3 separate regions of the Homo sapiens genome follow, and regions 2 and 3 are each linked to region 1. Evidence: fine-mapped expression QTL. A gene starts in region 1. Each other region holds a variant in brackets. All regions are shown on one strand. Distances are from middle to middle.

Region 1 (2,678 bases):
TGGGCGGATGGCTTGAGCTCAGGAGTTCGAGACCAGCTTGGACAATATGGTGAAGCCCCATCTCTACAAAAAAAATGCAAAAAGTAGCCAAGCGTAGGGTGGTGCTCACTTGTGGTCCCAGCTACTGGGAGGCTGAGGTGGCATGATCACCTTAGCCCATGGAGGTTGAACCTGCAGTGAGCTATGATTGTGTCCATACCGTACTCCAGCCTGAGCAACAAAGCGAGACCCTGTCTCAAAAATAAAAAAAATATAAAAGGCTTTTGAAAAACACTTTTTTTTTTCCTTGAGACAAGAGTCTCCCTCTGTCACCCAGACTGCAGTGCAGTGGCGCGATATCTCGGCTCACTGCAACCTCCACCTCCCAAGTTCAAGTGATTCTCCTGCCTCAGCCTCCTGAGTAGCTGGGCCTACAGGCTCGTGCCCCCACACTGCCTAATTTTTGTATTTTTAGTAGAGATGGGGTTTTGCCATGTTGGCCAGGCTGGGTTCAAACTCCTGACCTCAGGTGATCTGCCCGTCTTGGCCTCCCAAAGTGCTGAATTACAGGCATGAGCCACTGCACCCAGCCAGAAACACTTGTTCTAAACCACATTTTTTTCTTATCACTGCTTGCCTGCCCTTGTTAAAATTTGCTTCTGTCTCCATATTGGTGCCTATTGCTTATATACCAGTTTTCTTGTTGGGAGAAATTACCCAGTAAGCACTGAAATGGGAATCCAACTACTTTGAGTACCTTTCCTGAAAATAATTTCAAGGTGGAAGGAAAATCCAGGAGGTGGATGACCTAAGAGTTTTCTCCCACCTTAAACCAGACTCACAGTGACAAATCGTTTTTAATGCATTAAAATGAGGCCAAGAAATGAAGATTACTGGAGATTGGAATTTTGGTATATACAAAGCTAACTTGTGAAGGGAGAAAGTAGGTCAGAAAGGGGTCGGAACCTGCAAGAGCCAAATTTGGTCCTGGCATTTAAAATATCTCCAAATGGATACATATCTCAGATGGGGGACACAGACTGCTCTGTTAAATCTAAAAGTCTTGTACTAAGCCTGCAATTATTCTAGACATACAGTTAGTCTGAATGAGGCAAACTGAAGCAATGGATAATAGGGACAAAGGGTCCTGCTTTGTCACCCAGGCTGGAGTGCAGTGGCACGATCTCGTCTCACTGCAACCTCCGCCTCCCGGGTTCAAGCGATTCTCCTGCCTCCACCTCCCAAGTGGCTGGGATTACAGGCGTGCGCCACCCTGCCCAGCTCATTTTTTTGTATTTTTGGTATAGACAGGGTTTCGCTATGTTGGTCAGGCTGGTCTCGGACTCCTGGCCTCAAGTAATCTGCCTGCCTTGGCTTCCCAAAGTACTGGAATTACAGTTCTATGAAAGTGAAGAAATTACTGTTTTTTGCTGTCTAATTCCTTACAAGTTGCTTGAAGATTCAACACCCTATGTATGAGGGGAAGCCCTAAAAATCTGGAAGTCTAGAAGCCTTCCTAGGAAAATTTAGGAGGAATCGACAGAGTACTTTTCGAGAAACCGATTGGATCTTCAATTTAGAATTTTGGAATTATAATGGCTACTATGGATCCCCACTATACGTTAGGCACTTTGTATGCACTAAATCTTCATCATAACTACTTGGCAGATTTTAATCTCTTTCTCACAGCTTAAGAACGAAAGGCTTAGATCAAGTAACTTGCACAGGGGTATAGATCTAAAGAAGGGCAGAGGGGAGATCTGGAAACAGGCTGGCTGACTCCAAATTTGGCCCATTGGCAACAAAACTACTATCACTGCGAGAACGAAAAGAAAAACAAAACAAAGAAAAGAAAAGAAGTTAACTTTTAAAAGTTTTTTTCTGAATCAGCCTTGCAAATAAATCATAAACCGGGTCACAGGCCATATTACTGCTTGAAGCAGAGCACCGAATTCTGATAATTTTGCTCCAGGAGGAGGCAAGGGAATTAAAACATGGCTGGGAGGTGAGCGGACGTTTTGTACGAGGTTGGGTTGAATTTGCTTAAGAAGGTCGCACGCATCTCTGATAAGGAAGAGAAAAGGCCTTGCCAAGGTGAGTATTCTCAACAGTTCGTTCAACGGCTTGGCAGGTGAGGGAAGTTACAAGAGCCACCCTGGCGGAGGGCAGCGTCTTGTCACAATTGACAGGTGCCGGCGCCACCTGCTTCTTTCTCCCGCGGGTTTCTTAGAGGGCGGGGAAAGCAGCAAATACCCCTCCTTGCGCTCTAGTCCTCCAAGCCTAGGGCGGCGGGCAGTGGAGGCCCAGCGCTCTGCGGTGGTGCCAGGTTCCGCCACGCGGGCCGCGGCCGGAATGCGGCTCGGTGGCGCCCGGGCCACTCGGCGCCGGCAGCTGCTTAGGTCCAGCGGGGCTGCGGGAGGGGCGGAGCTGGCGAGCCGCCGGAGGGGCGGAGCCGGCGGGCCGCGGGGGGCGGGGCCACCGGTTGCTCGCGCGCGCCGCCGAGGCTCCGCACGCCGTCGCGCGGGCCGGGCGTCTCTGTGAATCCTGGGTCGCCGATGGGGGAGGTGGAGCCGGGGCCCGCGGGCCCGCTGGAGCCCCCGGAGCCGCCCGAAGCGCCCGCGAGCCGCCGGCCGGGAGGGATCCGGGTCCTGAAGGTGAGGAGGCGGATGGACCAGCGAGCGAGCGAGCGGGCGAGCGGG
Region 2 (2,678 bases), 58 kb after region 1:
TCTTAGAAATGAGGAATGTAAAGCTTAGAGCAGTTAGGTAACTTGTTGAAGGTTACACTTAACCAGGAAGTGACGGGAGCTGGCATTTGAAGGTAGTCTTTTTTTTTTGGAGACAGGGTCTCATTCTGTCACCCAGGCTGGAGTGTAGTGGCACAGTCACTCCTCACTGCAGCATCAACCTGCTGGGCTCAGGTGATTCTCTGTCCTCAGCTCCCCCTCAGTAGCTGGGACTATGGGTGCACACCACCACACCCAGCTAATTTTTGTATTTTTAGTAGAGACGGGGCTTTGCTATATTGGCCACACTGGTCTCAAACTCCTGGGCTCAAGCAATGGGCCCATCTCAGCCTCCCAAAGTGTTGAGATTACAGGCGTGAGCCACCACACCTGGCCTTGGATGTAGTCGTTTTTACTCCAGAGCCTTCACTCTTTTTTTTTTTTTTTTTTTTTTTTTTTTGAGACAGAGTCTCGCTCTATCGCCCAGGCTGGAGTGCAGTGGCGCGATCTCGGCTCACTGCAAGCTCTGCCTCCTGAGTTCACACCATCCTCCTGCCTCAGCTTCCGGAGTAGCTGGGACTACAGGCACATGCTGCCACGCCCGGCTAAATTTTTTTTTGTATTTTTAGTAGAGAACGGGGTTTCACCGTGTTAGCCAGGATGGTCTCGATCTCCTGACTTTGTGATCTGCCCGCCTCTGCCTCCCAAAGTGCTGGGATTACAGGCATGAGCCACCACCCCCGGCCAGAGCCTTCACTCTTAATCACTACACTGTATAAATTAAATGGAGAAAATCAGAAGAAATTTGAATAATTAGGGAATGTTTCATGGAGAAGATGGCATTTGAATTGACCTTTACTAGATGATGGGATTTTTCTAAGTGGTGGGAGAAAGAGAGTGGGGCTTGGTGAAGGCGGCAGGGAATGATACATTCCAAAGCATTGAGGTATAAAATGTTATTTTCTATGGAGTCTTTAAAATTAAACTAGAGGCGTTTAACATACTAAATATGAACACAATCTTTGGAGTCAAACCTTAATTCAAGTCCAGACTTTACCATTTACTATGCAGTGTGAAATCTTAGGCAAATCAAAGTTACTGAACCTTTCTGAATTAACTTCATTGTTAAGTGGCTTAGCACATTTTAAGCACTCCATAAATAGTAGTTTTTATTGTAATGAAATGTTATGAATTTATTCACAAGATGTGTTAATATTAATATACTGAATTTTTGGTGCTGCTTAGACTTAAAATCTAAATTGATTTATTCTAGAAATTGCCTTTTTAGTATAGATCTCCTCTGTGCTGTTTGCCTTCATTAATTCACCTTTTCTCAGAATGACCTTAATGACTTCCTGGTGGGTGGTAGGTAAACATATGGTCATAGCTGCTTTCTTGGCTCAGGCACTTGTCAGTGAGTATACAATCTAGGAGAATATGTTTCTATAAGTTAACTAATTTCAGTTAAATAGGCTAGGACAGCCTCAGAAAGAATGATTTAAGTAAGTTTTTAATGTGTTTGTTTGTATG[C/T]TCCCCCCTTAGAATTCTGAGTAGCTTGAGTCTTAGAAAACTGATGCTGGGACACAATCATGTGCAAAACCTTCCAACACTGGTAGAGCACATCCCCCTCGAGGTGCTGGATCTTCAGCATAATGCACTCACGAGGCTGCCAGACACCCTCTTCTCCAAGGCCTTAAAGTAAGTATCATAGGATTTTTTTCGGAAGAGCAGAATCATTGGCTAAACAGACTGCAGTGACTTATCATTGGAGTGACCTTTGGAACTGTATTTACAGAGCGTTTACCTAATAGTCCAACTATGAGTGGAGACTTATTTGCAATTTTTATGAAACAAAATATGACACTGTTTTATGAGGCAGTAACTCATAGTTGAAATAACTGTTAAATCCTTAAAGAGGTTTCTGTGTTGTAAACAATTTCAGACAGGTTGAGAAGATTCAGGCTTTCATCTCTGAAAATGAATATAGTTATGATATTTAAAGAGAAATTACAACATTCTGCTGTGGCTTCTTTGGGCAATTTTGAGCTTTTGCATTGGAGAGAAAAGGACGTACCACTAAAGTTAATTTGGTTTTTGCTCCTAGCTTTACCAAACCGCCTTTGAATTACAGTCTTTATGTGCAAACCTTTTTGTGTACTTTTTGAAAACTGTATTTACAGATAATGTCCTTCCAGAAGGTGTCATTTGCCTTCTCACTATAAATTAACAAATAGATGACATGTCTTCCTATTTTAGGCCTGTAATCAGGTTTACCTAATGTGTACATCACCTTTAAGTGAAAACTAGTTTTGTGGAGTTTATTTGTTTTTTGTGGGGTTTGTTTTGTTTGTTTTTTGCTTTTAGAGACATGGTTTCACTCTGTCACTCAGGCTGGAGTGCAGTGGTGCAATCATAGCTCACTGCAGCCTTGACCTCCTGGGTCCAAGTGATCCTTCCTCCTCAGCCTACTAAGTAGTTGGGACCACAGGGATGCACCACCACACCTGGCTAATTTTATTTTTTGTAGAGACACAGTTTCACCGTTTTGTTCAGGCTGGTCTCAAACTCCTGGACTCAAGTGATCTGCCTGTCTTGGCCTCTCAAAGTGTTGGGATTAACAGGCATGAGCCACTGCACCCAACCTGACAACTAGTTTTTTTCTTTTTCTTTTCTTTTTTTTT
Region 3 (2,678 bases), 41 kb before region 1:
CATGGCTGCAGCCTTTCCCTGTGTCATCTTATTTTGTTTGTCTTGTCATCAGTTTTAATAACTTGCATTTTTGTCTGAAAAATGAAACTGGGTTCCAAGAATTGTATGCTGAACATTTAGTCATTTGTGCTCTGTGTCCCAGGGTAATGTTATGTGATGTGCTGGCCTTTTTGGCAGTGGATAAAACAATTTCTGAATTTAGTAGCCCAAGGAAAAATGACTTTTCCAAGAAATAAACCAGATAAAAAATAACTAGGGTTATATCTAGTACAAAAAAAACAGACCATTGGGAAGTATGTAAGATAAGGTTGGTAACTACTTGGTCTTCATTTTATTACAAAAATATTGATTTAAAGTGGTTTTAAAAGGTATATTATTATCTCTAATATAACTTTGCCCATAGTTGACAGATTTAATGAATTTACAGATCTCCATGGCTTAGATTTGTCTTATTTGGAGTTGTCCAAAGTAGACTTTTGTTTAGGTGACTTATAAGTTACTTAATTCCAAACTGTTATGGCTCAACTTATTTAAATTCTTACATACTGTGTTTTCTTGTGTTTATAAGTGGCCTTAATGTTTTGAATGCTTTGAGTGCATGCCTTGGATATAGCTTGGCTTTTCATTTCAATCTTGATCCCCTTTTAGGCTTGGGGAGTAGGGAAGGGACAGAGTCTAAATATAGTGAGAAAAAATAACTGAGTTGCAGCAGAGTTGTAGCTAAAATTGCCTGCAAAAGAGATGGAATGCAATTCACTTTGCACACTATTTAACTTAATTTTTGGTCATTAGAGTTGTTTATATAGCTAAAAATTGAGTTTTTAGTTGGAAACATAAAAAGTTCCTATTGTGGCAAACCTTTTGTTTTAATATCAAGTAATTGATCAACAGAAATGAAATGAGTGCCAATATTTAAAACATCTTCGGCTTGGCAGTAAAATTGCCTTTACTATGTGTTAGGACTCTTAATGGATAAAGTAAAGGAAGGATAGGAAGGAAATTCCTGATTATAAGGAATGTATAGTCTCATTGAAAAGACAAGAAAACAGGCCATAAAGCCATATATATAAATAAGTCCTGAAATTTAAAAAAATTGTATCATAGGAGTTAAGAATAGGAAGAGGAAATTATTCATGGCCTTGATGTCTCTTAAGATGAAAGATGTAATTTTTTCATGTGTCTTCCATTTGATTACCGTATTACTATTGTCAGCTTTGGTATTCCCTGTTGTTTGTTGGAAAAGGGTATAACTCTTCTATCTTAAGAGAAGAGATTTTTTTCTCT[A/G]TTTGAGGTTGTATGTTTTAAAGCTATAATTTTAATAAGATCACTAGTTGTATTTTGGCATGATGACATGTTACATGCAAATGTTTGAATGGGTGAAAACTGAACATGTTTTTGCCACCTAGGCTTTTCAAGTTCTACAGAACTAGAAATGCGGTATGCCCCATAGGCATCTGTTTTACCTGGTTCCCATAGGCTTTCTGACCCAATATTATTTGTAATATCTTTACATATAACTCTTGCATAAAAAAGTCTGGTTTGGTTTTATCCAGATAAAATACATACTACTTCTTGAATATTGCCCTAAGTTACTCCTAAGTTTATCAAACATCTACAATACACTAGTATATTAAATCAGTAGAATTTGCTTGGACTGGGACCCTTACACCCTTTTTCTAAACCAAAGGACCTGCTTATTCATGAGACATTCTTCAATATTCACTGTTTTTTGATGCATCTTTCTTCTCTGCAGCTTGTGCCCCAATTAGTTCGTATTTTAAAGAACCTCATCATGTCCGGATATTCACCAGAACATGATGTTTCTGGTATCAGTGACCCCTTTTTGCAGGTGAGGTTGAAAGAACGTTTTAAATAAATGTTATATGAATTTAATATCTTTAAGTAGACAATTTCCTTCCTCTTAAGTTTGTGTTGAGTAGAAATTTGGTAGTTAATTGATTAATTATATTAATGAATAGTGACACAATTCTATATTAGATTAAGAGGATACAATTACAGGTCTTGCTCTGTCACTTAGGCTGGAGTGCAGTGGCACAATCTTGCCTCACTGCAGCCTCGACCTCCCAGGGTCAAGTGATCTTCCCAAGTAGCTGGGATTTCAGGTGCATGCCACCATGCCCGGCTCATTTTGTATATTTTGTAGAGACAGGGTTTTGCCATGTTGCCTAGGCTGGTCTCAAACTCCTGGACTCAAGTAGCCCGCCCCCCTCAGCCTCTCAAAGTACTGGGATTACAGGCAAGAGCCACTGTGCCCCACTTCAAATTACAGTTTTAATAGTCAAAATCATTTATTATTTGAATTATTTAATATAGCTCTGCAGGTGGTAGTATCTGGTAGTATCCTTTAGCTGTGGAGTACTGAAGTGTGGGTTGTTTTATAATAACTTTATTAGATGTAGAAGCATATATAGCTTCTCTAAATAAAGAAAATGTTTTCAATTCTTCTGTTTGATTTTTGACTATTTCTGATATGAATAAATGGTTCCAAATGAATTTCTAAGACTTCATTTAGTTATTTGAATTTCATACCAAGTGAGATTTCTTTGTGTGAGACATAATTTGTTGACACCTCTCATCTTTTGCACGTTAGGTACGAATTTTGCGGTTATTAAGAATTTTAGGACGAAATGATGATGATTCAAGTGAAGCTATGAATG

The links. PIP is the estimated chance that this variant, and not a neighbour inherited with it, causes the effect. A credible set is the group of variants that fine-mapping cannot tell apart.
Region 2: its variant is the best candidate, but not a certain one, in a credible set for the expression of PHLPP2 in whole blood (INTERVAL, PIP 0.57).
Region 3: its variant is the best candidate, but not a certain one, in a credible set for the expression of PHLPP2 in whole blood (TOPMed, PIP 0.83).

Annotation. Positions count from the first base shown.
Region 1 is chr16:71,723,724-71,726,401 of GRCh38, reverse strand. It overlaps PHLPP2 (PH domain and leucine rich repeat protein phosphatase 2), which reads left to right and starts at 1,701. Exons shown (of 19, transcript NM_015020.3): 1 at 1,701-2,073. RefSeq lists a silencer at 2,128-2,678.
Region 2 is chr16:71,666,195-71,668,872 of GRCh38, reverse strand. PHLPP2 (PH domain and leucine rich repeat protein phosphatase 2) reads left to right here. Exons shown (of 19, transcript NM_015020.3): 12 at 1,540-1,695. It also overlaps the pseudogene RNU6-208P. Among named protein-coding and RNA genes, the nearest start is that of SNORA70D, 31 kb to the left of the region's middle. The variant C/T (reference allele first, on the strand shown) is at 1,528.
Region 3 is chr16:71,764,660-71,767,337 of GRCh38, reverse strand. AP1G1 (adaptor related protein complex 1 subunit gamma 1) reads left to right here. Exons shown (of 23, transcript NM_001128.6): 7 at 1,754-1,849; 8 at 2,612-2,678. Among named protein-coding and RNA genes, the nearest start is that of SNORD71, 7.5 kb to the right of the region's middle. The variant A/G (reference allele first, on the strand shown) is at 1,285.